Regions from separate parts of the Homo sapiens genome. Here regions 2 and 3 are each linked to region 1. Evidence: fine-mapped expression QTL. A gene starts in region 1. Each other region holds a variant in brackets. All regions are shown on one strand. Distances are between the middles of the regions.

Evidence for each region. PIP is the estimated chance that this variant, and not a neighbour inherited with it, causes the effect.
Region 2: its variant is the best candidate, but not a certain one, in a credible set for the expression of LGSN in whole blood (TOPMed, PIP 0.64).
Region 3: its variant is the best candidate, but not a certain one, in a credible set for the expression of LGSN in whole blood (TOPMed, PIP 0.56).

What each region holds. Positions count from the first base shown.
Region 1 is chr6:63,313,657-63,324,519 of GRCh38, reverse strand. It overlaps LGSN (lengsin, lens protein with glutamine synthetase domain), which reads left to right and starts at 4,537. Exons shown (of 4, transcript NM_016571.3): 1 at 4,537-4,606. The coding sequence starts at 4,577.
Region 2 is chr6:63,375,122-63,385,984 of GRCh38, reverse strand. It overlaps a transcript of LGSN not described here. Among named protein-coding and RNA genes, the nearest start is that of LGSN, 61 kb to the right of the region's middle. The variant C/T (reference allele first, on the strand shown) is at 4,850.
Region 3 is chr6:63,503,285-63,514,147 of GRCh38, reverse strand. It overlaps a transcript of LGSN not described here. Among named protein-coding and RNA genes, the nearest start is that of PTP4A1, 64 kb to the left of the region's middle. RefSeq lists an enhancer at 9,331-9,470. The variant C/T (reference allele first, on the strand shown) is at 5,541.

The sequences.
Region 1 (10,863 bases):
TGTGTCCTAACATATAGTCTGTCCTGGAGAATATTCCATGTGCTCATGAAGACAATGTGTATTCTCAGTTGTTTTATAAAATTCATTTAATATCTTACACAATCACAGAACAGAGTTAAGAGAAACCTGAGATCATCTTGCCCTAAACCACATTTTGCACAAAAGGAAACTGTTATCAAGAAAACTATGTGATATGTCTTTAAAAAACAGTGTTTCCTATAGAACTCAAGTCTTTAATCTGCTGGTTGTTTCACTACAGCAGCAGTTCTGAAAGTATGGTTCAGGGACCCCTAGGGATTCCAAGAACCTTTGAGGAGACTGTGAGGTCAAAATTATTTTCACAGTAATGGTAAGACTCTATTTGCCTTTTCATTCTCATCTAGCATTAGTGTATAGTGAAGTTTTCCAGAGGTTGCATGACATGGGCTGTATCAAAAGAATAAATGCAAGCCGGAAGCGGTGGCTCACGCCTGTCATCCAGCACTTTGGGAGGCTGAGGCAGGTGGATCACCTGAGGTCAGGAGTTCCAGACCAGCCTGGCCAACATGGCGAAACCCTGTCTCTACTAAAAATACTAAAAGTTATCCAGGTGTGGTGGCGGGTGCCTGTAATCCCAGCTATCTGGGAGGCTGAGGCAGGAGAATTGCTTGAACCCGGGAGGCGGAGGTTGCAGTGAGCCCAGATCGCACCACTGCACTCCAGTCTGGGTGACAGAGCAGACTGTGTTTCAAAAAAAAAAAAAAAAAGAATGCAAAAACATACGAGATTCCAGTGGTTTTTCTCTTAAGCTAGACATTAGAGCAATTTGTGAAAATAAGAAATCAATTTTCTATAAAAAATGCTATTTATGTTAATATGTACAATGCCCATTATTATTATATTTTTAAATATGCTAATATTGATTAACATAACCTGTGTGTGTGTGTGTGTGTGTGTGTGTGTGTGTGTGTGTGTGTGTGTATATGAGGTTTTGGTGCTCTCAAGAATTTGTAGATATTATCACAATAAGTAGAATGATGCCATTAAAAGAAGGAAACAAGGACAACACCAGCTACCAATTTTTTAAAATTAATGGTGTTATAAAAATGTCTTCTGTGAATAGACAGTAGAGACTCAAAAGGGTGGAGTGGGATGAGTGATGAGAAATTACTTAACAGGTACAATGTATACTATTCCGGTGATGGCTACACTAAAAGCCAAGACTTCACCACTATGCACTATATTCATGTAACAAAACTGCACCTGGACTCCATAAATCTTACAAATAAAAAGAAATGTATTCTGTGGCACTCTCCTTCTAAAAATAGCTTGGGCTGTTTTGGAATAATTTTTAACTTATTATATGTGATTGCAAGCTCCTTATGTGCCTTGGAATTCAGAATTTCATGCTTCCACTTTCACAACTGACTTCATTTAACTTTATGAAGCTTGTGCTAAATATATAAATGCTTAAGGATATGTGAAAATCATTGAAAATGCTAAATTAAAATGATTTTAAACTAGTTTTAAATTGTATCAACTTTACAAAATAATTTTTTTCAGGGAGTTACGCTGTTTTCTACTCATTGCTTACTTAGGTTTATCGAAGGGGCAGATGAGAGGAGAAATTCCCTTTCTGAAACAAATGAAAAGGACACACAAAAATATTCTTCAGTTTCCCTGCCAATGTGTGTTTCCGCTCAGCCCTGAATTCACTGATTTTCTACCTGTCCTCACTCCAATATTTTTTAATCATCGGTTTTAAATCTTAATTCTGTAAACAGATCTACCATTTTCTTAGAAAATGAGGTATTTCTGGGAAGAACTGAAAAGAAATGGGGACTGGATTCATGAAAGGAACTTTTGGGGGCCTTTGTGAACAGGAGTTCTAGAACCACTAGGGAAGCTCAAATATTACTCCTTATAATTTTTGTATGATGTTATCTTCAATAAAGGGTGTCAATGTAGTCTTCCTGTTAGGTATGTCATAATTAGATGCATATAAAGGAGGAACAAACCCATGCAGCTTCTAGAACAACAACAAATCGGGAGAAAGGTAGGGTGGAAGTATCCTTCTGTCGTGGTTGTTATGTTCTTATGCTGACCTGAAACCATATTTTTGTGATTCATGAAGGTCATAAGAAAGATTATTTCCTTCACTGAACTTGGCTATTATTCTCACAAGTCAGTTATTCCCTTGGTCTCATTGGGCATGTTTTCACCCTATTTCCTTATCAGTTAGTGCTGGGAAGACAAGAACTTTGTATTTTATACACTGTACTGTAACATATAATATATGTAAACATGAAACAAAAACAGATTCATTGTGATTTCATTTTCTCCCACAGTGAAAGAATAGATTTAATCCTTTACCTAATTTGCATCCTTTGCTCTTCCAATCCTGTTCAATAATTCATCAGAAGGCAGTAACTTAGTGGTAAACAACATATTGTTTCCCCTTGTTGGTACTTAGTAAGCTTTAGCTTCTGCAATCTGTTCTCATGAAATGAATCCCATAATTCCTTTAATCATTTTAGTTACTCTTCTCTGGATCCATTCAATTAGATTACAACTTTTTGGCAGGAGAAGTACTTGAGTTGAACGGTCTTTCCATATGTTGTCTCAGAAGAGTGGTAAGAGAAAGACTTGTATCATTTACATTCATGGCTCAATGACTATATTCATTTTGACTAAGATAGCTTTCTGGATATAGTACAGATTGAACAAATGCTTGTGAATGAAAGTGTTTAATATGGACTTATTGACCATTTATTATTTTTCTAATCTATTTGTTAAGCCCTTTACTGACATTTGGTTTTTCCTTTGGAAAAACTGATTCTAAATAATGGTAATACTTTTAAAATATGTATCATGCTAATACCATAAATTAGGTTATACACCATATGTCCAACCAAGCTTTAGAACACTTTTTACAAAAATGGGCAAATCAAGGTTCAGGAAAGGATATTATAAAAAAATCATGGATACACATTGAGAAGAAGAGATTGTCAAAATAAGGTAAGGAAAAGAAGATGAAATGAATCAAATTGCATATTCAATAACAATAAAACTCCCAGGAGAAAATTTGGGTAAGTAGTACTATAAAGGAATGATTTTTTTAAAACATGTCCCAATATGTAACTGAACATGTAAACCAGCTTGGAGTTCTTTTCTTTGATATAGGAAAGGGAACATTTCTGAAACAAAAACGAAATTTTTCACAAAACATTTTTTTCCATAGCTCAATGGCACCTGTTTTGCATGGAGACAAGCACATGCAAGAAAAAGTTGTAAAAGTGGAAGCAAATGTGGTCTCAGAAGAGGATTGAGAAAAACTTAGGTAAGGCTCTGGTACAAGACATTGTGGGAATTAAACACCCTACTAGAGATCTGGGGGAAAGCACCAAGAGCAAGTCAAATACTAGGATAGGAGATAGAATCCCTTTTCTTGGGGAGGTTCAAGAGTCCAAAACAGCCATATTCAGGATGCAGTTTCAGGCTGGCATCAGCATCAGAACTAGGTCCAAATTCAAGATCTGGTTGTAGATCAGGCTACACAGAGCAGAAGCTTTAGAGTCAGTCATGGAACAAGTACCAATGGAATGGAAATAGGAATAGTTAATCACTGTCTTTAGGAAATGGGGCTTTTGAAATGGGCCAAGAGAGTCAGGCAGGATTGAGTGGTTGTAAGTATTGGCTTGGTCTTCCTCAGGCCCAGAAGACCAGGAAGAAGTGATTAGCCATGGAGACTATACACTTCCACATGGAAAATGCTTAGAGAGAATTTGGTTTGGTTCAGAAGAAACTGCATATCCTCCTTCATCAACAATACTTGAAGTTGAGTTGATAGCAGCAGAAGTGTGATTTCAAACCCCCTTTACTAGTGAAGAGAAAGCATTCCCTATTTCCTCTACTGAGTTAGGATTGTTTATGGGACCATATGGGGCAGCCTGTAGATGATTCTGTGTTCATTGTGCACAGTGGGGATGGTCTGGGATTTGTCACAGACTGACATCGGAGAATTGGAAAAGCTAAAGAAAGATATTTCAGTTTTATAATGAAGGTCCAGAATTAATTTGGAGGCCAGAGGGACCTAGAAAAGAAAATAAAAATGAGAATTACAAATGAGTGGATCTTTGCCATTGGTAAAAATCTGGGTCACTTATAGCTGTATTTTTCCATCTGTGCTTTTGTCTGTGGGCTTTGATAGCATAGTCGTCTAATAAGTGTTTCATCATCTGAATCTGACAATAGATATCATTCCAGAATACAATTGTTATGTAACAAAAATTCTGTATGTTGGAGAAAAAAATCAACCAACACAATTTTAAGCTTTGTATGTCTTTTGTTTGCAGGGAGTCAGGCGTAAACAAGCATTTGTCATTCGATTCTTCTAGTGCATTTCCAGCATACTGTGCCTTGGGCATGACACATCAGAATCTGATGTTTATCTTTTATTACCTGCCAGACCCCTCTGGAAAAGCCTCTATGGAATTCATCATCTGCAGTCTTTGTTGTAGGTACACATATAAATACATGTTGAATGCATTTGTTGAGGATATTGTGGTTTCTAACGCTGAACTTAAAAAGTGTTGAGATGAATAATGAAGAGGACCTTCTGCAGGAGGTATGAAGCTAATCATTAAAATGTTTTTAACCAAAATATTGACAGTAAATCTTTTTAAAAAATGTCAATTATTTGAATGCCAGTAAGAATAAGGGCAGCATAATTATACTTGTTATATGTCCACTCAGGAGAAGTTTATGAAGAATTGCCCTTCTGTACTACACAGTGAATTTATAAAGATAATAAAAACTAAACAATTCAAAATATTCATCTAGGAAAGCTCATTTGGTTTGAATAATCATTTAAGTTCAATAGGCACTGAGTTTCAGAAGCATAAGTATGCTATAAAAAAATTTATTTCTATTTTGGTTGTTATTGAGAGAATAATCTTTGTTTTTCTCAAAGCTTTGGCCTCTTTCTAATAAATATGCTTTGAGATTAAATGACTAAAGGTGGAAACCTGTTTTCAAATTATATTTGAAATGCACAGCATGAATAATGATAGCCACTTATAGGGTCTAGCATATATTAAAATAATCAGTTGTCAACATATAACATTTCTCCTCACTTCTTAATGTGTGTGTACCCAACCTTCACTCTTGTATTTCTGACTGACCATTCTGAAAGACTGAAGTGCAGACTTGGAGGCAAGCTGTGGTAAAATTTGGGAGGATGTGAGTTATCTTTAGTAGGTTAAGAAAATATAATGCAAGAAGCATACCTACTATGTGAAGAGTGCAGTGGAAGACCAGTGCATTATGTATGAAATAGTGGCATATAGAGAACAAACCTGGTCCCCACTTTTGCATGTAGTGGAGAAGATAGCTAACATCTAAGAATGGGTTCACTGATCTGTATAGTGAATACAAGCAGTTGTTTTGAAATAGAGTCAAGAACAAATGCACTTTCCCTAAGGGAAACTGGGCAAGGCTATGTGAAGAAGGCACTCCCTGAGGAGGAGCTGTGGCTTATCCTGTACTGTCATGTCACTGTTGTAGGCATCAAATGGTGGACATGTTTATGTGATTATAATGAATTTAGCTAAAAGTAAATTCATAGCTGCAAAGGAAGGCTTATAGAAAGAAAGTAAAGGTAATTAGCATATACATCATTAGCTTTTTGGGATTTTGATTTCTAACTATGTAACTTCTTGGACTAGTTTTACTTACTACTTCTGATCCCATGGCAGAACTCTGCTTTCTTCCCCAGCTCCCACAATTTTAGTCCAGGATTCCAGGTGATACAGCTCCCATGAAAGTCCTTAAAAGCCATGCCCTCCTCAAGACCAGTCTAGACCAAATGTTGATTGTTTACTCTTAGGAGAGCAGAAAAATGAACAATATGATTTTTAAACTGCACAATTCTCACAGCAAGAGACATTCTCTGTCTTTTGAGGAAAAGTTCCCTCAAAGTTGGAATAGAGCATTGTATTTACTAGATGTAATAAAGGTGAATCTTGGCTGGCCACTTGACCCAACTCCACTGAATAAGCTCTTTTATACTCTCCTGTATAGGTTCGCATTCTCAGGAAGTGAAAGAATATGGAAGGAGGGAGAGAGATGACATGTGACATTCCTTTTCCAGCTAACAGATGTTTGGAAAAGGACAAGACTGTGTTTCATGCTAGATGCTCTGGTAATGTGAGCAAGAGCAGCATGAAGTTAACTACAAAACACAGCAGCTGAACAAAAGCTCAGTGGATTCCGAAGGGCAGATTGTGTATATGGAGAAAATCCCTCAGAATACTTACTTCCCCAGTCTGAAGAAATTCTTTGTCAGAATATTCAGTAAAATGAACAGTTATTAATCTTAGGTTTGGTACTCCCCTAAAGAATATTTTACTGAGATTCTCTATTTAAAACAATGCTGTAAAGTCATGCATTCAGCTACATTCTTAGCAGTGGCAGACAAAAAATAGATTGAAAACACATTCTTACTTCTTAAAGTAGATCCTATGGGTGTATGAAATTGTGAAATTGAGTGAAAGAGTGGCATATCATAACAATTAAAATCTGTTTATCAAGAACCTTGTGTGTGGTGCTGAGCTGGGTAATATGTCAAGTGAGTAAGATCTGTTCCCCACCCTGCAGATATTTATAACTCAATACAGAGAACACTGACACAGGTAGACACAGTTCTGACGTTTCCATATCACAGAAGGAATGAATGCCATCTGGGGTGAAGTCAGAGACTCATCCTGCTCTGCAGCCTGTATCTGTTGGGGGCATGAAGTGCAGCCCCATGGGAGGCTCTACCTGACCTTCTAGAGGCTTGCTTCAAGAGGCTAGAGATTTACCTACCCCAGCTTTCCCTGCTTTATGCTATTGTCTGTGTGACTCTAGAGACCTCCTGATTCTTGTTTTGTATTTTCCATTTGTTTTGTCTCTGAGAATTCAGAAGATTTGTCTTCTGAAGATTTCAAGGTTTATAGTTCATTTTATAATTATTTACCTCAAACTTACCTACTTCCAGTGTATCAACTAGCTCTCCATTTAAGAATTCTCAGTGGAGAGACAAGACAAAAATTAGATTTGAGTTTCAAGGGCAGTGGATTAAGCTCGCACTTCCTGAAATGAGAATGCCTGCATTTTAATCTTGGCTCTGCTACTTACTAGCTGTGTGACATGGGGCAAAGTATTGGACTTCTCTGTACCTCACTGGGACATTAATAGTGCCTACAGGAAGGGATTTTGTGGAGATTAAATGAGTTAATACATGTAAAGTGCTTAGAACTGTGCTTACAATATAGTGAGAACTCATTAAAAAGGAGTCATTCATTACATATACTTTATTATGTTATGTTGACCTCTAATAGCTCTCCTGTTTTCATTTTTACAGCCTTAAAGAGTTTTACATGTTTTCCTTTACATGATAGAATTTGTTTGCTTATGATAGTAATGATAACAATTATATATAATATACCTTTTTACATAAACATATATCCATCCACTTCTAGCCTATTAAGGCTTTCCTAAGGCACAATGACTAGAACTATTTTTAGCAATCAGTTACAGGCATATCATAATTTTTTTAAAGGGTAGAGCACCTTCCCCTCTCACATTTAAAGTATTTTTATATTCATATTTGCAGTATTTTTATATGCTGCAGCAGCCCATTAGCTGATATCTTCACGAACAGTTCCATAACATTCTTGGATCTTTTTTCATACTATATTACAGAGCCCATTATCATAAATATATATTATATATACATGAATATTTAAATTTTTTCTACATGTCTTTTTACCTTTGAAATATTTTTGTTGCTTTTCTGCTCACCCACAAAGCCTTCACAAATTATTTTTGTCCTGTCTACATGGATAAATATATTTTTAGCCATACGATCTTAATTTCTCTAAAAAATATGGAGAATTCTTCTTTGATTTAATTATGAACATACTAAATAAAACAAAACTTTTTGCTTCCTTTATTATTTTAGTGTTCTTTATTATTTAGCTTCATATTATCAAAATCACATGGTGTTAGACCTTTGTAAAATTATGTTTTTCCTTCTCTGAAAATGTTTGGTTAGGTATATTTTTCTTGTGTAGAACTTCTATTGTAGATTTTGCATAACTTGCCCACAGAGGTGAGATTTGTTTATGGGTTGATACACACTGTTGACTATTAGCCAATTTGTTAGAAATAAAAACGAGACTCATAGCTTTTCATATGGGAGCAGCTATATCATTTACATTCTGATACTTCTTTCACACAGAGCTCTCAGTAATGATCGTTGCTCTATCATTCTCGGTCACATATGAATGTTCCACCTAATCTGCCAACTTAGGTCTAGGTTATTATCTTGTAAAAGTGGTGAGGATTAAACAGTTAGAAAGTGAAAATTTGATTGTAGAAGTGGAAATTAACCAGGTTGACCCTGACATTTGGCTAATCTCCCCACAAATGTGCTTGGAGATGAGAAACTCAACACTTTGACAAATAACCCATTCCATTTTGGGCTTATTATATTAAGTAAAATTCTGATTCATTGCAAATTCCAAGCAATTTATCTGGATTTTCCTTCTGTGCTTTGTTTTACTTCAAAAGATAGAGATACTATTGAACTCTCACTTGAAATGTGGAGTTTTTTTTTTTTTTAAGACCTGGATTTCCTTAGTTTTCTGTATTTTGTCACATATAAAGTTTGTAAGTAGCATGAAGAGATGAAATAAGAGTTGTAAACCACACATATTTGAATTCTGCTATGTTCTAGCTATGAAGCCAGTCAAGTTGCTGCATTTATCAGATCCTCAGTTGCCTCACTGAAATATATATCTATATATTTATATAGATATATAGAGAGTGAGAGCATGCATACACACACACACACACACACACACACACACACACACAGAGAGAGAGAGAGAGAACATTTTAGCTATTCTTCAGAAAAGCAAGAGAAATAATGTTTTCTCAGTATCTTAAGTGGGGTAATCATAACCGTGGTGAAAAGGCCTGATATTGAGGGTAACTACTGTGAAAAAACCCTAAAGAAAAGGTAAAATTTATAGAGTAAAGCTACAGAGGCATTGTAGAGCAGGCTTTCACTAGCACAAGCCCATCTAAGTAAAGAAGCACAGGTCTAAGCCCTTCTAGAGAAAACTTTGAAGAAGTCCATGCCATATTTTATCTAGGAAAGCTGTTTTGACTGAATCATCCTAGTGGGTTACCATCAGGTCTTGCTGACATCCAAAGAAGTCTCATTTAGAATCTTTTATAAAGGAGAAGTCTGAGTCAAATGTCCTTTCTGGCCTTATACTTCAACATGGTAGGTCTTGGTTATAATTAATTAATTAGAAATTATTTACTCAATTACTACTTTATGCTAGGCAATATGTTAGGCACAAGGATACATCTAAATGCCACCTTCTAAGAATCTTCAGTCTTTGACATGTTCTTCTTGTCATCCTTTCCTGACTTGACTTCTTATCCCATCTGTCTTGGATTCCATATCCCATTATTTTAGCATCTTCCTTGCCCAAATCCTCAACTTATTTTTGTCATTGTCCTTCTGAGTTTGTGACCTCATGAAACCTTAAACCATGGTGTCTTCACATTTCCAGCTGAGCTTTGCTAGAGAAAATAATTACCTGTGCAGATTGGTGTCACTTTAAACTTTAAAACCTCCAATTCTTTCTGGGCCCTTGATATTTTTCTTTCTTGAGTCGGCTCTTTCTCAGTTTCCACTATAACTATGTGAAACAATTTCCATTCTCCTTAAGCCTTTAGTCTTCCATATTCCTACTCTATCTGAACACTTCTTACCCTAAAGGGAAAATTGGAAGCATCACAACCCTCCACCTTTTCTTATCCAGAATGGATAAGATAGATTAAGGTTTAAAATCAGTTTTAGATTGAAATTCTGCCATTTATTGGGTGAAAATCTTCCTGAGGCTCAGTTATCTCATCTGAAAGGCACTCATGAAATGTTAACAATTCTTTGCTTTCTGTCTTTCTCCTCCTAATAGTCCTCTTCCTCCTCATTTTTTCTCTTCCTTCCTTGTCTCAGTCAGTTTGGGCTAATATAACAAATTGCCGTAGGTTGGCTGGCTTAAATTACAAACATTTATTTCTCACAGTTCTGGAGGCTGTAAGTCCAAGTTAAAGCCTCTGGCAGATCTAGCATGTAGTGAGGCCTCACTTTCTGGCTGGTAGATGTACATATTCTTGTATCCTATATGGTGGAGAGCAGAGACAGAGGAAGTAAGCACTCTTCTATATTTTTTTCCCCATAAGGGCACTAATTGTATCTTGAAGGCTGTAGCCTCATGACCTAATCACCTCTCGAAGGCTCTACCTCCTAACATCATCGCATTAGGTGTTAGGGTTTACTGTATGGTTTGTGGGGGACACAAACATGCCGTTCTTAACTCTGCTCTTTCTTCTAACGATCTACCCCTTTTCCTTCCTCTGATAGAGGAAAATGTATTAAAGTTAATTCCTTTATTTCAATCCCAGATTCCATCTTTTCTGTCCTCCCAGGGACCTCCCTTTATTTTTTTTCTACTCTCTCCTACATCTCCTTTTTTGTTTCCTTTCATTAAGCATGTATTTATATATGTGTATATGTATGTATGCATGTATGTATGTATGTATGTATGTATTTATTTATTTATTTATTTATTTATTTATTTTTGAGACAGGGTCTCACTCTGTTGCCCAGGTTGGAGTGCAGTGGTGCAATCTTGGCTCACTGCAACCTCCACCTCCCGGATTCAAGTGATTCTTGTGCCTCAGTCTCCCGAGTAGCTGGGATTACAGGCGTGCACCACCATGTCCAGCTAATTTTTATATTTTTAGTAGAGATGGGGGTCT
Region 2 (10,863 bases), 61 kb before region 1:
TAATGAATAATGGAATTAGTAAAGTAGTTGGTGTCAGGAAATTGGGTCTGAGGTCTCAGACTTTTTGCCTATGTGATATTGGGTATCGGTCCTTCAGGAATTTGCCATTACTTATAAACAGAGCATAACACAGATATATGTATTGGGTTGACCATGTCAACTAAAAGATAGGTTATTAGCTTATCTTTCTGAATTTGCCTACATTTTGGAACTGACTTTGGACTTCATTTAAGTGGATAGATCCAAGATTGTAATTCCCACCTAAGAGAAACTAAGCAAGTTTATAGGGGACAATTGAGAGTCTAATGCTTAGAAAACTATGGATAAGTTAGACATAAGTTAAAAACTCTGTGACGGGTTGGAGGCAAAACTTAAGAGCCAAGAGTATAGAGTTGGAAATGGAAGAAGACTAAGAACTGATGAGTAATAAAGGAGTAAAGTCTAGAGCAACTGCTGAAACAGCCTTAGCTTGTCAATAGCTAAACTTTATCCAATTGATTGTATCAATAGGATGATTTTGGCTATAATTTATAGAAAACCACAGCTTAAAGAAATCAGGGAAACTTATTTTCATATAAGAGGACATTTGAAGACAGAGTGATCTAAGTTTAGTTAATTCAGTGGCTCAGCAGCATCATTAAGAAATAAGTTTTTGTTTTATGTATATTTTGGTAGATCTGCCATACTCAACATGGAAACCAGTTCTCAGATGGATTCTCTGTACAGGTGTAAGATGGCTAAAGCAATTCCCATCTTCATAATCAGATATCAAAATGTCCAGTAACAGAAAGGGTGCTTCCTTCCTTGTGTCATTATTTTAAAATTCATTTACATGTCATTTTTAAATGACTATATTAGATTTCTAGGGCTGCCATAACCAAATACCACAGGCTGAGCTTCCTAAAGAACAGAAATTTATTTTCTCATAGTCTGCAGGCTCGAAGTTCAACACCAAGATTCACAGGTTTGTTTTTTCTGAGGTCATCCTCCTTGGCTTACAGCTGGCCACATTCTCTGTGTCCCCACATAGTCTTTCCTCTGTTTGCTTATCCCTGGTGTCTTTTCAAGTGTCCATAGTTCCTCTCAAAATGACATCAGTCAGATTGGATTAGGGACTTCCCATAAAACCTCATTTAATTTTAGTAACCTCTTTATAGACATTATCTCAGCTGGGTTCAGTGGCTCATGCCTGTAATCCCAGCACTTTGGGAGGCTGAGGCGGGATCACCTGAGGTCAGGAGTTTGAGACCAGCTAGCTTGACCAACATGGTGAAACCCTGTCTCTACTAAAAATACAAAATTAGCCATGTGTAGTAGTGCATACCTGTAAACCCAGCTACTTGGGAGGCTGAGGCAGGAGAATTGCTTGAACCTGGGAGGTGGAGGTTGTAGTGAGCCGAGCTTGTGCCATTGCACTCCAGCCTGGGCAACAAGAGCAAAACTCCATCACACACACACACACACACACACACACACACACACACACACACACACAAGGTGTTATTTCCAAAGGCATTCATATTCTAAGGTACTGGGAGTTAGAGCTTCAACGTATTAATTCAACACAATTCTGCTCATAACGGTAGTGGAAAACCTTTCCATAAGTTTCTCCCATATCATCTCCCCTCATGTCTCATTGTGCAGAATTAGGTCATGTGATCATGCTTAAACCAATCCTTGGAAAAACAACTGGGGTCATAATTATTGGTATAGGCTTATCAAGATTTACTCTTGGAACTGAAAATGGGGTAACCCCTCCTTGGTTCTCGTGGCAGGAAGAGAGGTAGACATCAAATGAAATCAGGGCCCTTCAAGCATGGAAAAAACTGGGGAGGACTTCTAGGAAGGCAGCCAACTGGTGTGCACAATCATCATAGGTTTGTGGTTTATGGGTGATTTGGGTTGGTCTAAACGTTTAGAAGCAGAGGAGACTGTAAATACACTAAGGAGTGGTGAAATCTAGGGAACTGAAAGCAGACATCTAGGATCCTTTTAGAATGTCAAGTTAGAGAAGTGGTTAGCAGAGAAGCTGGTATGTGGGAGACAATATTAATGAATAACCAGAGATAAAATGAGTTTGAAAGGGTGGCTCAATAAATAGTTCTACAAATTCTGACTTTGCAGTGCAGGCAGTATACTGTATCCTCTATGAGTTATTTACCCTCTCTGATCTTTATTTGTAAAATGGGAATGATAAAGTCAATTATTTCACAGATTTGGAGGATTAAATAAGACAACTCAGTGAAAAAGTTATTAAAATATAAGGTAATACATGGATATTAGAAACTATTATAGTGTATAGTTAATGGCATTGAATCTAGTATATGACTTGTCTGTGTCCAGCACAATCTGAGAAAATTAGTTTAGTAAAGACTTAGAATTTCTATAATCTGTTTTGTGTCTTATTTTTATTTATGAGGGCATAATTTGCACTATGATCATCAAGTAGTTACCTGGATTAAAAAAACGCCCTGTTCAAAAGGTTTATCTCTAAGTTTTGGTCTATTCTGTTCTGGTGTATTCTTATCCCTGTGTGAATATGCTGTTGATCCCCTGGGTCTGTGTATGTGCATGCAAGAGTGTGTGTGTGTGTGTGTGTGTGTGTGTGTGTGTAAGTAATGGTTAAACAAGGTTTATGTGCTATTTTGTGTGGGTATGAACCTATGAGTTGGTTGACTTCCCTTCTGTCATTGAGAAAGTTTTAAAAAAAAAATCCACTCTTGGTTGGATGTGGTGGCTCATACCTGTAATCCCAGTACTTTGGGAGGCTGAGGAAGGAGAATTGCTTGAGCTCAGAAATTTGAGACCAGCCTGGGCAACATAGCTATACCCTATCTCTATAAAAACAAACAAACAAACAAACAAACAAATAAATCTGCTCTTTTAAAGGTGCTTAAGGCTTTCCTTCTTAACATGAACAAAAGCAGGAAAGGTTAAGCAGTCTTTTGAATTTGAGATACATATGCCTGTAGCTATTTAATTAATTAGAATGTGGGTCTTACATAAACTTAGAAAGATCATTGAGCTAGATAATCCCTTTTGTCTTTTTCATGGCTAATAATGATGGTAACAGTATTTACTTTTACCCATTCTTGAACTGTTGTAACTTAACAGTATGTGACAGCAGTAATTCTTATTATATATGTATATGTTGTACAGTTATATCTTAGCTTGGGTTTGCCAGGAAGCAGAGCTTGAGACAAAGTCTTGTTTTAAAACACTTTATTGGGAAGTATTGAGTCCAGAGATCAAAGGTGAGCCAAACAGAAGAGAGATGCAAAATGACAATGTATTATCAAGTATATATGTCTACAGGCAACTAGCTCCTCAATCACCCAGGCACATAAAATGTGTCTTAGGACTGTCCTTCTGAGACAGTGAGAAACCTGTATCTCTCAATGGTCAAATGATTGGCTTTACCCTCCTAGGTAACACATGCATGGGTGCAAAACATGCTTCTGTGTCATCTCACATAGTGTGGTCAACAGAGAACACCTGGGCAGAAGATGAGAGGCTCCTGGGGACTGGTCTGAGACAAGGTGCTGTAAAAGAAAACCTATATTAAAGTGGTTGGAAGTGCACAGACTGGTTGCTTCACCTGCAGCCAGAATGCAAGACAGGTGAGGTGAAAGTCTAAAAGGATGCATAAAGACATATTCAATGTACTGTATACATACACCAATAATTTTGGTTAACTAGGGTTTCACTGTTAAAATAAATATTATTACTAGTAAGTATTTATAGTGAAGATATATTTGAGTCTATATAAAAATGTAAGTTCTCTTCAATGTGGATGGCATTATCTATTTTAAAATGCTTGCTTATGAAATATAATACATTTTGTAGAGGAAATACAATATTCAAGGGTCCTGTTTTAAGCTTTGTTTCCTCTTGAAAGTGAGAAGCCTTAATGATTGAAGAAGAATAGCACTTGGTTGATTGCTTTTATGTTTAAGGTACCAGGAATTTAATTTGTGTGCTAGTAGGTTCAGCATGAGTGTGAAAATGTGATATAGTGTTTAAGAGTTGTCATGTAGTCAGGAAACATTTTCTTTGGAATTAAAAAAACAATATTATCCCTTAGTGACTTTTTGTTGACATTCAACTAATGACAGAGAGACATTTCTGTTTCCTTAGAGGGCACTATGCTTTGAGCTATAATGCCATAATCTGGGGGTAATTTCTGAGCTCCATTGCTTGCTGTGTCTGGAGCTGGACAAGATGAAATGGCAATATCAAGCAGCCACCTGCATTTTATTATAACTTCTTATTGTAATTATAGTTATCATGGCCATTTTGGTCCAACTTAGTTTTTCCAGATGAATGGGTTAATTTGCAAACTTGTGGTGATGAGGTAAGTTGTGATATTCATGGTCTTTCAGAAACAATAATTTTAAATGGTATTAACCAGTTGCACTGAGAAGGCTTTCTTACTGGATAATTTTTATGAAGGAAATGCTAGCCTGTTTGATATTACTTTTCATAAGAAGTTATTTTCAAGAAGGGTGTGGTCTATAGAAGAAGGCAGTTTTTCTTAGTACTACTCTTTTCTTTCAGTACCAAGGTCAAGCATTTCATGATGAAATTTAAGAGCGGTTGTTAAACTTTGAGCAGAGGAAGAAATTTCATCAACCAACTACTTTCTTCCTGTGGATGCCCTGATTTGAACTATTTCCTTATGAAACTGGCATACAGATTGCAGAAAAGTTGAAATTAATTGACATCCATATGTTTTATTTGGCATCATAAGCTGCTGTCTCTCAAATTTTTTTCTTCTTTCTTTGAGACAGGGTCTCACTCTGTCACCCAGGCTGGAGCACAGTGGCACAATTATGACTCACTGCAGCCT[C/T]GACCTCCTGGGCTTAGGTGATTCTCCCACCTCAGTCTCCTGAGTAGCTGAGACTACAGGTGTGCACCACTATGCCTGGCTAATTTTTGTGTATTTTGTTTTTTAGAGATGAGGTTTTGCCGTGTTGCCCAGGCTGATCTCAAACTCCTGGGCTCAAGTGATCTGCCTGCCTTGGCCTCTCAAAGTGCTGGGATTACAGGCCTGAGCCACCACGCCTGGCCCATCACTTTTAACAGGTGTTTGTTTGTCTCTTAACTGAAAAAAAATTTCCTGAACTTTCTTTCTGCAAATTGAGATCAAATTCCAAATAGGGTTTCCATATTTTCATAAAGTTTCTGAAATATTCAAACCTGTATTAAATACAAAGCAAAAACATGCATATAAAAGGCAAATACCTTTTTGGCATCTAGAATGAGGATAAAGAGCACAAAAATTTAGGAAAAAAAGAAAAGAGCTATTTTTTTATTTTGATGCCACAATGAACAAATTTTATCCTGTTGGCTAACCTGCAACATGGCAATAAAAATGCTCCTTCCGTAACTTCTCTATGAAGGCTGAAAAAAAAATGTTTTCAGAAAGTGAATGTTATCAAGTCAATCACATAAGACTCCACCTGTCAAACAGCAGACTTAAGTTGGTGATGCTTATGACGCTGTCTACCAAAAAGGAGCAGCTTGAACATAAAAATAGGTCTGTGCCCTAGGGAGGAATGCTGTTTCCTTTCCTGTGATATGCGTCTGCAGACTCATCTCCATCAAGAATACCAATTCAAATTGATGTTATTGCTTTCTATTCTGTATTTTTTAGATGTCTGCCAAGTACCTACCAATGTGTAAAGTGGCACAGAAATTCAACAGGAGGAAGACAAGGTCTCTGGTTTTTTGAAAACTTTTTTTGAGAGAGATGTGTTGAAACAGACACATTTAAATAATGCAAAACAAAACCCTGTAAATGACTAAAAGCCATAGTAGATCTTTAGCTAGAAAATAATTTTATGAGGCCGGGCGTGGTGGCTCATGCCTGTAATCCTAGCACTTTGGGAGGCCAAGGCGGTGGATCACCTGAGGTCAGGAGTTCGAGACCAGCCTGGCCAACATAGTGAAACCCAGTCTCTACTAAAAATACAAAAAATTAGCTGGGTGTAGTGGCAGGCGCCTGTAATCCCAGATACTTGGGAGGCTGAGGCAGGAAAATTGTTTGAACTCGGGAGGCAGAGGTTGCAGTGAGCCAAGATTGCACCATTACACTCCAGCCTGGGCAACAAGACCAAGACTCCATCGCAAAAAAAAAGAAAAAAATTATATGGCAGATTGCTTCTACATTAACTACAGCAACATTTTACAAGCCTGCAAAATTTTTGTAAAAAAACAAAAACAACTAAAACTAGCTTCATGGATCCTACTCCAGAGAGTTTGATTAAGTAAGTTGAATGCATGAACTAAGACTCTGTATTTTTAACAAGCTTCTGAGGTGCTTCTGCTAATCACTGAGTTATTGACCACTGGAGCAAGAGGAGCTAAAGAGGACCTGCTGTAGTCTGCTTGATACACACACATCATACAAATATTAATCACTGAGAAAAATTGAAAAGGCAATTTTATTGGCAATACAGATAAGGAAAGAAACAACATCAACTGCACTTCCACCTTTATCCTATTTTTCCTCCCAGGTGCAAGTCATCCCTGAGGAAGTAGTGACCAGCTGTGGATGCTACGCTGAGGCCCTTCTTTAAGAGTGATCTGATGGCACTGGATGTCTGCTGAGGCTTGTGTCTAGAAGGAATGAAAGGATGTGCCAACAACAGCAGTTGTCTCCTCGTTTTCAAAGCTCAGGCCTCATGGTATCCCCTTCTCTTGGTTCTGTTTACTAAAACATATCAGTGCCTGACTATGCCTGAATGATCCATCTTCCTTAAGGCTGCTACACCATAACTAGGAGCTTTAAAAAAAAGGGGGGGGCATTTACTCTCTGAGGCACTCAAAAAAGCACATGCTTTTAATTGAGGGATGGGGGTGACAATGGATCATTCTGTTGATTTTAACTATCTCATATTTGTTAACAGCATCATTTCCATGGATAGCTTTCTGAAAGACTGCCTATCCACTTAGAGGTGAGGAGAAGTAATAGGGGAGGAAACCCTGCCGAGCTGCAAAAAGTTCTAAATCCAGTCCTTTAATTATCTTGCTTAAAATTCTTTATTGGCTCTTTGATACCCTCAGAATAAAGCAAACTGCTTAAACATGACTTACAAAGTAATTGCTATAGTTTGAATATTGTCCCCCAAATCACATGTTGAAATTGATTCCTAGTGTCAGAGGCGGGGACTGTGAGAGGTGTTGGGGTCATGGGGCATATCTCTCATGAATAGATTAATGCTCTGTCAGCATGGGGTGGGGTTGTGTGAGTTCTCACTCTTATTAGTTCCCAAAGAGTTGGTTATTCAAAAAGAGCCTGGCATCTCCCTCCTTTTTGTCTCTTGCCTCCTCTCTCACGTGTGATCTCTGTGCATGTGCCTTTCCGTTGCCTTCCCCATGAGTGGAAGTGGCCTGAAGCCAATGCTGGTGCCATGCTTCCTGTACAGTCTGCAGAACTATGAGCCAAATAAACCTATTTTCTTTATAAATTACTCAGCCTCAGATATTCCTTCATAGCAACACAAATAGAGTAAGACAGCCATTAATATCATGCCTATACCTGAGACAGTGGTATGCATTAAACATTACATCTGCCCCTACTTTTCTAGGTCATTATAATTTTGGGGGTGGGGTGGGAGAAGCATATGACTAGTGCTAACCAATAGGCTGTGGGTAGAAGTGATGTGTGTCACTTCTAGACTGAAGTATATAAAAGTCATTCAGATGTCTGTTCCCCTGCTGTGGTGATCAAGAAAGCCAGATGTTTCTATTGTTGCGGATATGAGATGTTGTCTCCATTACTCTAGATCCCTAAGCGTTTGTGTTCATTAGATGCTGCAGCTAAACTGAAATTCTTTCAGTTCCTTGGTCATGCTTACCTGTCATCCTTTGCAAATACTTTTCTCTTTCTAGATTGCTTTTCCATCTCTTCTTCAAGTGTCTCTTTTTCTTTTTTTTTTTTTTTTTCAAAAATCTGGTTTAATCTTCTACCTAGACCACTAAAACCTTTCTCCATATCAGCAATAAGGCTGTTTTTCTTTCTTGTTATTCATCCTTTTTCTTTTCTTTTTTTTTTTTTTTTTTTTTTGAGATGGAGTCTCTCTCTGTCGCCCAGGCTGGAGTGCAATGGCACGATCTCGGCTCACTGCGACCTCCACCTCCCGGGTTCAAGCGATTCTCCTGCCTCAGCCTCCTGAGTAGCTGGGACTAGAGGCGCACACCACCACGCCCTGATAATTTTTTGTATTTTTGGTAGAGATGGGGTTTCATCATGTTGGCCAGGCTGGTCTCAAACTCCTGACCTTAAGTGATCCTCCTGCCTCGGCTTCCCAAAGTGCTGGGATTACAGGTGTGAGCCACCGTGCCTGGCCCAAGTGTCTAACTCTTTTCTTCTCTTCTTGGTCAGAACATCACTTTCTCTGGGAAGCTTATTTTGATCTTCTAGGTTTACGTTAGGTGTTCTTTCTATAGAATTATCCTGCACTTATCACACCATGAGGTAATTAGTTTCCTGCTTCTTTATCCTTGCACTTCTTTGAAGGATTGAATGAACCAACTCCCCAGGGCTGAGTTTGGAGAGCTGGGGCAAAAGGTGGAGTGAGGGAGGCAGCATGGCAGCATCTGGAAAGCTGTGGAAAATTTGCCTTCAGGGCATGCAGTTGATGGTTACCAACCCCCATTCTATTGCCTGGTTGATTGTTAGACCTCTTACACCTTCTGGGTTGCTCTCTGCCTATTGGCTTGCCATAATTCATAAAGGATACGTTAGCGTCTATTGCCAAAGATTAAAAAAGCCAGCTGGTTTCAGAATACTAAGTGGCAAATGTTTACTATAAGTCAGATGAAGACAGGCTGTTCCCTTAGCAATATTTTGCTCTAAGTAAGAGGAAAATTAGTCTAAAATTAATTTAAGCTATAAATTATAATGTCAAAAAGAATCAGTGCATATCTATCTACTTCTTTTTGAGGTATCATTTGCACCTAAAGTAATTTTCTTAATATGGGAGCAGTCTGTTTAGATTAGAAAAGCACAAGCAAGGCACTTCAAATACTATATTTTTCTTTTGTTCTGCTTTGTTCTGGGTTTGGAAGCCTAGGAACACTCAGCTGAATTGTGTTTGGACAAGAATAGTGGCCACTTGTGAATGTAGACCATTGTTAAAATGCACTTTGTATGTTCTAGTAAAAGTTATTCACCCCAAAATCTTGTTTTAGCTAGCAAACTGACTCAATCTGAAAGTAGATGAGTTTTAAAAAGTCAAATAAAATACAATTTCCTATTTCCTTTTTTCATTTTAAGCCTATTCTCTGATGATTCCTTTCTCATATTTAAAATTCTACTGGGCTCAGGTAAGAGGCAGTCAGATAATTAAAAAAGAAGTTAAAGAGAAATGCAATAGGTGAATGTTTTCTAGAAGCTCAGAAAAGGCTGAGTGTATCCATTGCCATTTGTTTGAGTCTATTAGGGAGCTATAGTGCAGAATATTGAATCTGAGCATAGTGATTTTTCTAGATGTCAGCATCAGTAGACAGAGGGCTTGCTCTTCATCAAGGCAATCTTTACCCTTTGTAAGCTTGGCTCTGAATAAATAGAAAGTATTGATTAAGAAAAGTGAGGAAAGGGTATAATTTTGATGTTTCTTAGGTTTTAGATAGTACTCCTGGTGTTTATTATCTGCATTGCTCTCTGCTGTGAGCCCAGGGTGTTTCTTCAGAAACGTTCTGTGTTCTGCCCTTAATAAGCTTTTGGGTTAAGTAAAAAAGAAATAGAAAGCTTTTTCTCTGCCTTTGAAGAGTGTAGGAATGGTTAGAGAGACAAAACACAGAAAATGTAAGCGCAATTAGCAAGCATCGGGGGAACATGGGCAAAATAATCTGGTATGAAGTAAGGTCTGTGGAGTAAAGAATCATATATCGTGGAGAGAGCATAGCAGTGTGTTAGAACGGGTTTGGACTGCTTGGGTTTGATATCATTCAGTACTATTATATTTAATTTGTGACATTAAGAAAATTACTTAATCCCTAGGCAAAATAAAGATAATACAACATTCACTTCATTTGGTTCTAAGGACCAAACAAGATAATATGTAGAAAGTGATTATCATGATACCTACAACATAGTATATGCTCAAAAAACATTAGCAATTATTATCAATATCATAGGCAATATTTTTGATTAGGGAATTATCTCACTTAAAGGAAGTAATTTTCTACTCACTTCCTAACATGCTATCTTTCTCTCTTGTTTTTCTTATCTCATTTCCAAACTCAGCATTATCTTGACCCTTTAAAAAGTTTCTTAAAGTTGAGAAATAATAAAACCTATTATTAAAAATAATGTACCAGCCAAAGGCAAACTGCCTTAAATGCATTACTCTCTAATCTCTCCAACAACTAATAAAGTAGATGGTGAGTACAGACGAATATATACATATCCACATAAATAAGTGTTTTCATATTTTGCTTCATATATCAACCTAGGGAATCTGAATAAAAAATGTTTCCATTTATGATCCAGCTTTTCTTGCAATTTCAGTGCAAACTAGTAGTAATATTTGCCAAGAAAGATCATAATTGCTATATAATAATATAAATATAAATATATAGTAATAATAGCTAACACTTATACAATTGTTGTCAAGCACTCTTCTAATATATACATATATGTATGTGTAAGAATTAATTTAATACAATTACAGAAAGTCAAATTGATTATGAGGACCACCAATAATGTATTCTTTTGGCCACTCTATACTGCTTTTTATCAGCTCTGGATATATTTAACCCAATTTTAAAATTCTGGAATTCCTTAATTTCTAGAATTTGTATCTCTCAGTCAATGGTTAAAAAAGAAAATGATTAAAAAACAAAAACGGAATT
Region 3 (10,863 bases), 190 kb before region 1:
CTTTGGTTCTTTGCAAACATTGAGCAAGAACAGGACCAGGGACCAAATGATGTGGGCAGAAGAACACAGATTATTAGTCTTTAACAGATTTTTCGCTAATTATTTTATATATTATTCATTTGTATTTATATAAGTAATATCTTAATACATATTCCTTATGAAAAATTCTAAAGCCACATTGGAATAAAGGCAAAATGTCTGTTTTCCAGTGTTTTTTTTTTTTTTTTTTTTTTTTTTGAGATGAAGTCTCGCTCTGTTGCCCAGGCTGGAGTGCAATGGTAGGATCTCAGCTCACGGACACCTCTGCCTCCTAGGTTTAAGCAATTCTCCTGCCTCAGCCCCGCGAGCAGCTGGGATTACAGGCACCCGCCTCCACACCCAGCTAATTTTTGTATTTTTAGTAGAGACGGGGTTTCACCATCTTGGTCAGGCTGGTCTCCAATTCCTGACCTCAGATGATCCACCTGCCTTGGCCTCTCAAAGTGCTGGGATTACAGGTGTGAGCTACCACACCTGGCCAATTGCTTTTCTAGTTGAATGTGCAAAAACAACATTAAGAACCACTACAAATTCCTCACACATAATTTTAAAACTAGAGTATGAAAAGTACTCCTAATTTATTATTACTTTTCCAAGAAGTGGCCAGAGAATTAATTCCAGGAAAAGGGGACTACGGCAAACATTGTAATTGGGTAACCATTATCCATGGCTCCCCTTATAAAAAAAAAAATCCCCATTTTATCTGGGGCAGCAGTGTGTGTGGCTCCATAACACTTTGTTGGATAATTACCTTCCTAGACTCCTTTGCTTTTGAGAAGACCAGTGTGGCACACAATCCTGCCAATGAGATTTCATGGCAATCTGCATAGGAGGCTTCTGGAGGTTTTTAAATCTTTGCAAAAGGGACAATAATAAGAAAAAAGTGTCCTTTACCATTTCTTTCTCGTTTGAAAGTAGATGAGGTATTTAGAACTATGACAGCTATGGAACAATGAAGTGAAAAGAATAAAGACAAAAGTCAGCACGTTAAGGACCCAGAGAAGAAAGAACCTGGACTCTTGGTTATATTTCAGAGGAGATGGACTAGGGATTGCCTCCCTCTAAATTTCTCTGGGCAAACACTGAATGTCCCTATGGTTTGGCCACTTTTAATTTCCTATTCTGTCAGTTGCTGCTGAAAGCATTCCCAATACAAATACGTATCTGTCTTGTTCTCTGCTTTAGTACGGAGAACAGTGCCCAACGTGTAATAAGTGATCAAAGAATGTTTGCTGAAAGAATAGAGTGAGTGGATTTTAGATCAGATTCTAAGCATCATACCAAAACTTGTGGGTAGTAAAGTTGTTGTATTTATTTTACACTGAATTTTTAGTTTGAGTATAATTTCCCTGAAACTATTTGCCTTACACTGCTTTTTCCATACTAACAAAATCTCAGATATGTTTATCCTTCAACATGTTATCTGAGGGAAGATAGACCCCTCTGCAGTCTCATAAAAGCCTATCTTAATTGATCTAAGCTAATCATGGTAGTCTCATACCCTTTGCACAATGAATGACTTATGCCTGGGTATGAGAGGCAACTGTGGCCAACGGAGCTAATTCTGTGGGGACTTCAGGAAAAATATTCCCCATTAAATAAAAAGTGGGGCATGGAAGATAATGATTCTAGGTCTTCATGTGATGTCAAGATATGCCCCAGCCACTTTGCAGCAATGAAGGATAAGGCTTGAGGACTAAGCCACCACGCAAAGAATGAGAGCATGAGGCTGGCTCCATGGCTCATGCCTGTAATCCCAGCACTTTGGGAGGCCGAGGCAGGTAGATCACTTAAGGCCAGGAGTTCCAGACCAGCCTGGTCAACATGGCAAAACCCTGCCTCTAATAAAAATACAAAAACTAGCTGGCAGCTGTGGCACATGCCTGTAATCCCAGCTACTCGGGAGGCTGAGGCAGGAGAATCGCTTGAACCCAGGAGGCAGAGGTTGCGGTGAGCCGAGATCACACCACTGCACTCCAGCCTGGGCAACAGAGCAAGACTTTGTCTCAAAAAGAAAAAAAAAAAGAACATGGAGCGAAGGAAAGAACTTGAGTCCTTAATGACGACTGAGCCAGTCCAGGAGCAGAACTACCTCCATACTTCTTGCCATATAGTAAAATAAGTATCCTTACAGTTTCACCACTTTTAATTTTTTCAATCTGCATCTGCTTGCTAGGGAATTATTAATTTTTTTAATTACTTGCAGCCAAGAACATCATAAATAGTATGTGGATTTAAACTGTCTTTCAAATGTGTACACATAAGTAGTAACAAATCCCAATGTGTATTTTTCATCATCTTCAGATTTGGAGAGTCATTTTCTCAGTAAGAAGCATAAGAAAAATTACACAGTAAAAATATTTTCCAATTTTGATTCTGAGGGACAATTCAAAACCATAAAATAATAAGCTCTGTTTCAGAAAAAATTTTAATACGTTAGATTTGGGGGTCTATAATCCAAAACATCTAGGTAAACTATAAACTGTCAAAATTTTAAAAATGCCCAGGTAATGATTTCAAATTCTCAAAGCTACATTTTAAGAATTCACTTGAGGCTGGGTGCGGTGGCTCATGCCTGTAATCCCAGCACTTTGGGAGGCCAAGGTGGGTGGATCACCTGAGGTCAGGAGTTCAAGACCAGCCTAACCAGCATGGTGAAACCCTGTCTCTACTAATGAAGTACAAAAATTAGCTGGGCGTGGTGGTGCATGCCTGTAATCCCAGCTACTCCGGAGGCTGAGGCAGAAGAATCGCTTGAACATAGGAGGCGGAGGTTTCAGTGAGCTGAGATTGCACCACTGCACTTCAGCCTGGGCTACAAGAGTGAAACTCCATCTCAAAAAAAAAAAAAAAAAAAAAAAAGAAATCTATTTACTTGTATAAGCTTGACCTAGAGTAGGGATCAGGATTTGTAGGGCTTCCATTGGGCTCATCTTATCATCTTATAGATATAGCGTGTTGCAGGAAGAGGTGGGAATGTAGAACCAGGCACTTGTGTTAAGTGCCCTGATTGTTACTCCTAGAGTAATAGGTGCCATGAGCATAGCACCATTGATCTCCTTATTCTACCAAGCACATTTTATTGCCATCATTAGCTTATCTGTCTAGCTGCTCCTCTAAATAATTCGCATCTTGACCGGGAGCGGTGGCTCATGCCTGTAATTCCAGCACTTTGAGAGGCAGAGGCAGGATGATCACCTGAGGTCAAGAGTTTAAGACCAGCCCTGGCCAACATAGTGAAATCCTGTCTCCACTGAAAATACAAAAATTAGCCAGGTATGGTGACATGCGCCTGTTGTCCCAGCTACTCAGGAGGCTGAGGCAGGAGAATCACTTGAATCCAGGAGGCAGAGGTTACAGTGAGCCGAGATTGTGTCACTGCACTCCAGCCTGGGTGACAGAGCGAGACTCTGTCTCAACAAAAAAAAAAAAAAAAAAAAAAAAAAAATTCGCTTCTTGAAGGAAGAGAACATGTTTTGCTTATTTCTGTATTCCTGACACTGAAGATGGTGCCTGGCACATAATAGATATTGAACGAAAGTGGGGAGAAGAGATTAACTCTGGGGGAATAGAATAAGGGGAAAAAAATCTAAATATTAAATACTGAGGAGTTATGACTTGAAGTGTTTAAAAAACTAAAAAAAAAAAAAAAAAAAGAAAGGTAGTCAAACCATAGAAAGATTAAGTGGTAACTAGAACTTACAAGGGTTAGTTTAACTTTTATGTTTTTTTTCCTTCTCCCTGGGAAAGTACCTTTGGGATCATGTGGTGTTTGTGCAAATCGCTTGGGTCTACACAGCACAGAGTGGGGCTAAAGTGCAGATGAGGTGGAACTAAGAAACAGCCTGTCCAAACAAGCATGATTTAGAGCAGTTGCCTCATATACTGGACCACTTTTTTAGTACTGAAGGCGGCAATGACATACTTTATGGCAGTCACAAGCTGCTTTTAGTATGTTAAATGAATGAATACAGGCAGTTCTTCTGGAAACTCAAGGGTTTGTTGTTGTTTCTTTCTATCTTTAAAAAATTCAAAAATAAACTTGCCCCAATATTAATTTTAACCGAAGCTTTATTAGATGGTTACATTTATAAATTTACACTTCATTTGTGATAGTCCTTAATTATAATTATCACATACTCATGTTTTGAAAAGTTAGTGAAACTTTCCCTAAAGAGCAGGGCTTTCTGTTCTACCTCCATACAAGGCACTATCAGTGTGGGAGGAAGGGCAAAACACTGTGCTAAACCTGGCCCCATCCCAGGTCTGCGACTAACCCGGGGCCTTGGCCAAGTCAGCTAGCCTATCTACTGTTTAGTTTCTGCATTTGTAAAACAGAGGCATGTGTGAAGACAATCTCTTATGATTTCCCCTAGCTCTAAAATTTTACTGTTATAACGTATTAAATGCCTATGTTTATAGGAACTGAAACGGTTAAGGTTTAATATTTACTCTATAAGCTAGGTTTATCACTTCATCCTTTATAACGAAATTTTCATCTTACACATTATTATATCATACATTTAAGAAACTATGGCAGCTATATAAAATAATACAAAAACTAAAAGGTATAATTAATATTTGATATATTTATTTTAATGTCGATTTCTACAAATATACAACATGCGCACACCTAATTGAGATTATACTGCATAGAGAGCTTTGTATCCTCGATTTCATTGAATTTTGTATTGTGAACATTTTCCCATTTTATTAAAAAAAATCCTTAAAAAATAGTATTTTTGGCCAGGCGTGGTGGCTCATGCCTGTAATCCTAGCACTTTGAGAGGCCAAGGCAGGCGGATCACCTGAGGTCAGGAGTTCGAGACCAGCCTGGCCAACATGGTGAAACCCTGTCTCTACTAAAACTGCAAAAATTAGCCAGAAGTGGTGGTGTGCGCCTGTAATCCCAGCTACTCAGGAGGCTGAACCTCAAGAATCGCTTGAACCTAGGGGGTGGAGGTTGCAGTGAGCTGAGATCGTGCCAGTGTACTCCAGCCTGGGCAACAGAGCGAGACTGACTCAAAAAAAAAAAGAAAATTTTTTTCCTTTATTACAAAATTTTATATTGTTAAATATAATATGAATACAAATAAACTATATAAATAATTATTATAAGGTGAACACCTGTAACTATCACCTCACTCAGTCACCCCAGAAATACTCTTTTTTTTTTTTTTTTCTTTTTTGAGACAGAGTTTTGCTCTTGTTGCCCAGGCTGGAGTGCAATGGCCCAATCTCGGCTCACTGCAACCTCCACCTCCTGGGTTCAAGCGATTCTCCTGCCTCAGCCTCCTGAGTAGCTGGGATTACAGGCATGCACCACCACGCCCGCCTAATTTTTTTGTTTTTTTAGTAGAGGCAGGATTTCGCCAAGTTGGTCAGGCTGGTCTCGAACTCCTGACCTCACATGATCCACCTGCCTCGGCCTCCCAAAATGCTGGGATTATAGGCGTGAGCCACCGTGCCCAGCCAGAAATACTCTTATAACATAACCATCT[C/T]CCTCCCTACTGAAGTGAATTACCCTAATGACTTTTAATCATTTATTTTTCTTTATAGTTTTGCTATGGTGTGTGCATCCCTATACATTATCATTTAGTGTTTCCTAAGAGTATAATTTTTAATGTATGTTTATTATTCTACTATATAAAGATACATAAATTCATACAACTTTTTAGCTTATTTTTTGGTGGTTTTAAAAAATTTTATTTTTTGGCTAGGTATCTGTTTACATAATGCAAAATTTTAAATGTTCAAAAGGGAAGGCAATCAAAAGTCTTACTACTACTTTGTTCTTCAGCCATCTGGCTATCTCTATAACCAGTTTTTAGGAAGTTGTTTTTGAGGAAAATGAGCCTAAGAATGGTATTGATATTTTTTCAGCTTTAATGTCCTAAACTAACCTCCTAAGTAGGTACAAAAATATAATTCTTAGAAAAGCATTCAAAAAGTTGATTTTTCTTTTATATGAAGTTGGCATAATTTCTGGAGTAAGATATGTGATTTTACTCTTGAACTAGTTAAATGTGTAACATTGAACAGTTAACCATGAATTGGTTGTGAAATAACCAAAGAAGGAAAATTAGGATCCAACTAGGTATAAATAGTGTGGTGGTATTTTACTTTGCTTGACTATGGAGCTGAGAGACCCAAGTTGCTTTTTTTTGTCTCTTGGGCATGATGGAAAACTCAACAGTTTCTTATGTTTTTGCTCTAGTAGATCAATAATGTCATGAAGATAACATGTTATACAAAAATGCATAATTCAGTTTGCATTAATGACAGAACTACCATCAACCTGTCTGAACAGTATACCATTTTTATGAAGCAGGGTTCTTTGGCTGTAAGAAACAAAAACAGGCTCTGCTTAACCTAAATAAAGGAAATTTACTGGGATAATTCAGGTACTCATTGTTTGGCAGAAAGGATGAAGAATCAGGCTTTGAAATGAACAGAGCCAATACAACTTATGAGGTCCAGGAACTGCTGATAACAAGAATGGTCTCATATGAAAACTGGCTTTGGATATTTTACTGGATTCTAATAGAAACTGTTCCTGATTGTGGAACACCAGGTGACTATGCAACTAGATCTACTCATCAGGATGTTATCAGATACAGTAAGTGATAAGTTTGGATGGGTGTATCATTAGACTTATGATATAAATGAAACATATGCATCCAGCTTGACCATATTCAAAAGGTATGAATGAATTATATGCACATGTATCTCAAACTTTCAGGTCATCTGTCTCTGTAGCACCAATAACCCTCCCTTAACTCACACTTGGGCCTCATGAAGGGAGGGGAGTAAGTGCCCCCTTCTGACTAAGTGATGGAATAAGAAATAACTTGGCCCAGTTTACACATGAATTCTCACAGTACATTAGCGATAGTGGAAAGTAAATTGCCACCACATTATAGTTCCACTCAAGGACGGAGGGACAGTTGTGAAAAGAAATCCTCTCTCCAGGCAGGCAATGTTATGAGTAGTGCGAATGGTCATTCACTTGGTATGGAGAGAGAAATGTACTTTGTATAGATACATGGGGACCCTGGGGAAGGTGGGAATGTCTTGGCTGGTTTGTCGGGGTAAGGCATCCTCATATTGGCTCTCCCATCTTCCCTTCCTCATTCTTCTACTCCCTCACTCCTGCTTCCCTGGGATTGCAGGGATACTAGTAAGATAGTGTCACGTGAACTTTTGTCTCAGGCTCTGTTTTGAGGGAAATCAACTTCTCTGAGATGTTCAGTGAGATATTTGTGGGCAAACCAGACTCCCTAACCAAATTACACATGCTTTACCAGAGCAACAATATATGTTCAGTGGTAGCTCAAGCTGTTTTTATGACCATTTTTCTTATTTTGGGAAGAAAATGAAGAGAAGCTTGTTCAAATTATTTTTGATAACTTTCATGTATGCCCGTTCTCTTAAAATCCTTCTACTAGGTTAACCATTTATAAAATAACTGGGTTAGCAATCAGAGATAGAAACCTGTTTGTGAACAGAATGAATAAGGAAATTGTGTCATCAACAAAACAAGAAGAGCTGGGCACAGTGGCTCATGCCTGTAATCCCAGCACTTTGGGAGGCCAAGGAGGGTGGATCACGAGGTCAGGAGTTCGAGACCAGCCTGGCCAACACAGTGAAACCTCGTCTCTGCTAAAAACACAAAAAATTAGCCGGGCGTGGTGGTGGGCACCTGTAATCCCAGCTACTTGGGAGGCTGAGGCAGGAGAATCACTTGAACCTGGGAGGTGGAGGTTGCAGAGATCCGAGATCCCACCATTGCACTCCAGCCTGGGTGACAGTGCGAGACTTGTCTCAAACAACAACAACAACAACAACAACAACACCACCACCACCAACAACAACAAGAAGAACTTATCTCCTTTCCATGAGAAAAATCAATATGTAATCAAAATTTTTATTTTATTTAAAACTACCCAAAAGATTGAATTTGACTTTTTCTAGATACCATTCACTATGTCAAAAACCTAAGCAAAGAATGTAAATAACTTTCAAAGTATTTCTTCCACTCTACTCCTGATGAGTCTAAAGTTAAACAACTGAAAACTGCCTCCCTCAGTTTAACATTTGGCACATCTCTTTTTAAGGACTTCGAAGATACCCTGTGTCCCATTACAAATAAAATATGACGGCTGGGCGCAGTGGCTCATGCCTGTAATCCCAGCACTTTGGGAGGATGAGGTGGACGGTCAGGAGTTTGAGACCAGACTGGCCACTATGGTGAAACCCTGTCTTGACTAAAAATACAAAAATTAGCCGGGCGTGGTGGTGCACACCTATAGTCCCAGCTACTTGGGAGGTTGAGGCAGAAGAATTGCTTGAACTCGGAAGGAAGAGGTTGCAGTGAGCCGAGACTGTGCCATTGCACTTTGGCCTGGGCGACAGAGCGAAACAAAAAACAAAACAAAACAAAACAAAACAAAACAAAAAAGAATGCCAGAATTTCTTTCTTTCTTTCTTTCTTTCTTTCTTTCTTTCTTTCTTTCTTTCTTTCTTTCTTTCTTTCTTTCTTTTTTTTTTTTTTTGACAGATTCTTGCTCTGTCCTGCTCTTGGCTCACTGCAACCTCCACCTCCTGGGTTCAAGAAATTTTCCTGCCTCATCCTCCCGAGTAGCTGGGACTACAGGTATGTGCCGCCACACCTGGCTAATTTTTGTATTTTTAGTAGAGACGGGGTTTCACTATGTTGACCAGGCTGGCCTTGAACTCCTGACCTCAAGGTGATCCACCCACCTCAGCCTCCCAAAGTGCTGGGATTACAGATGTGAGACACTACGCCCGGCTTTACTTTAGAATTTCTTAACTAAAGAGATGAGGAAAAGCATATAATTCCTTGGCTTCACTTTATAATGCTTGATAGAAAATGGGGGTGGATGAGGAGATATCAATAACGTTAAAAAAAAAAAAAGCAAGTTACTAACAGGAATGAGGAAGCAGAGGGAAGGTCAAAATGTAGGATGAGGTGGGCTTTCTAGCCAATATAGGACAATAAAGAAGAAAAGGAATGCCATGGTCATGGTGATAACCTTACCAGTTCCTGGTGTAGATGAGAAATGAAGCATAGCTAATCTACTAATTTTAGGTGACACCATCATGCCTTTCACTATGACTCAAAAGAATGTGTGACAAACCACTTTCTCATCAGGCCAGCTGATGGTATTGCCACTCAGAAATGGGGAGAAAATTCTTAAAGAACCACTAAGAGCTTTTCACTACTCTGAACTCTCAGCTTGAATAAAATCCACTTAGTCCTTTCTGTATTTCAGTGACTGCAATTATCAAGCATTGATAAGGAGCTTCTTGGGTTTTCAGAATGGTCATAAAAAATGATTTTCAGCTGAGTGTGGTGGCTCACACCTGTAATCCCAGCACTTTGGGACACCGAGGTGGGTGGATCACATGAGGACAGGAATTTGAGATCAGCCTCAGCAACGTGGCAAAACCCTGTCTCTATTAAAAATTCAAAAAATTAGACGGGCATGGTGGTGCACGCCTGTAATCCCAGCTACTCGGGAGGCTGAGGCACAAGAATCACTTGAGGCTGGGTGCAGTGGCTCACGCCTGTAATCCCAGCACTTTGGGAGGCCAAGGCTGGTGGATCACTAGGTCAGGAGTTCGAGACCAGCCTGGCTAACACTGTGAAATCCTGTCTCTACTAAAATACAAAAAATTAGCTGGGCGTGGTGGTGGGCACCTGTAGTCTCAGTTACTCGGGAGGCTGAGGCAGGAGAATGGTGTGAACGTGGGAGGCGGAGCTTGCAGTGAGCCGAGATTGCACCACTGCACTCCAGCCTGGGCAACAGAGCGAGACTCTGTCTCAAAAAAAAAAAAAAAGAATCGCTTGAACCAGGGAGGAAGAGGCTTCAGTGAGCCGAGATCGCCACTGCACTCCAGCCTGAGTGACAAGAACAAAACTCTGTTTCAAAAAAAAAGATTTTTATTTTATTAAATATGGGTTGAAAATAGGTGAGGTATTTATAAAAAAAATGGTTAAGGATGGTGTATTGAGCATCTTTAATGTGTGACTGTTCAGCATTCATTTCTCTTTCCTAATAACATCACATTTCTTTTAGAGGGAATTATAATTTTATTATTATTGTTGTTACTATTTGCATATAAATTTTTATATATTTGTCATTGTTGTTGTTGTTTTGGTTTTTTTGAGACAGGGTCTCACTCTGGTTGTCCAGGCTGGAGTGCAGTGGGGTGATCTTGGCTCACTGCAGCCTTGACCCCTCAGGCTCTGGTGATTCTCCCACCTCAGCCTCCTGAGTAGCTGAGACTAGAGGCAGGTGCCACTGTCCCCGGCTAATTTTTTGTATTTTTAGTAGAGGCGGGGTTTCACCATGTTGCCCAGGCTGGTCTCAAACTCCTGGGCTCAAGCAATCCACCAGCCTCGCCCTCCCAGAGTGCTGGGATTACAGGCATGAGCCGCTGTGCCTGGCCTTGTTACCATTTTGGATTCAGCCTGGTGGACTTTTACTCAGCAGACCTATACTTTCTTAGCCCAAGTCTGAATATATGGTTGAAACCAGGCCAATCAGACACCTACTCTCTGGAATTTAAATCTTGGGTAGAGGATTAAAGAGAGGATTAATCTATTCCGGGGCGAGTCCTGGATTTTGTCAACGTGAAGCCATTCTTGTGATCTCCAGATCCTGGACCACTGCGAATACCTTGGATCAGCACATTTCAAAGTCTGGTTCTCTAGCCTTACTTCCAGGCGATGAAGTCTGATATATTTCAGTAAGTTTCCTTTCCATAAATGAACTAGAGCCTCTTTCTGTTGTCTGT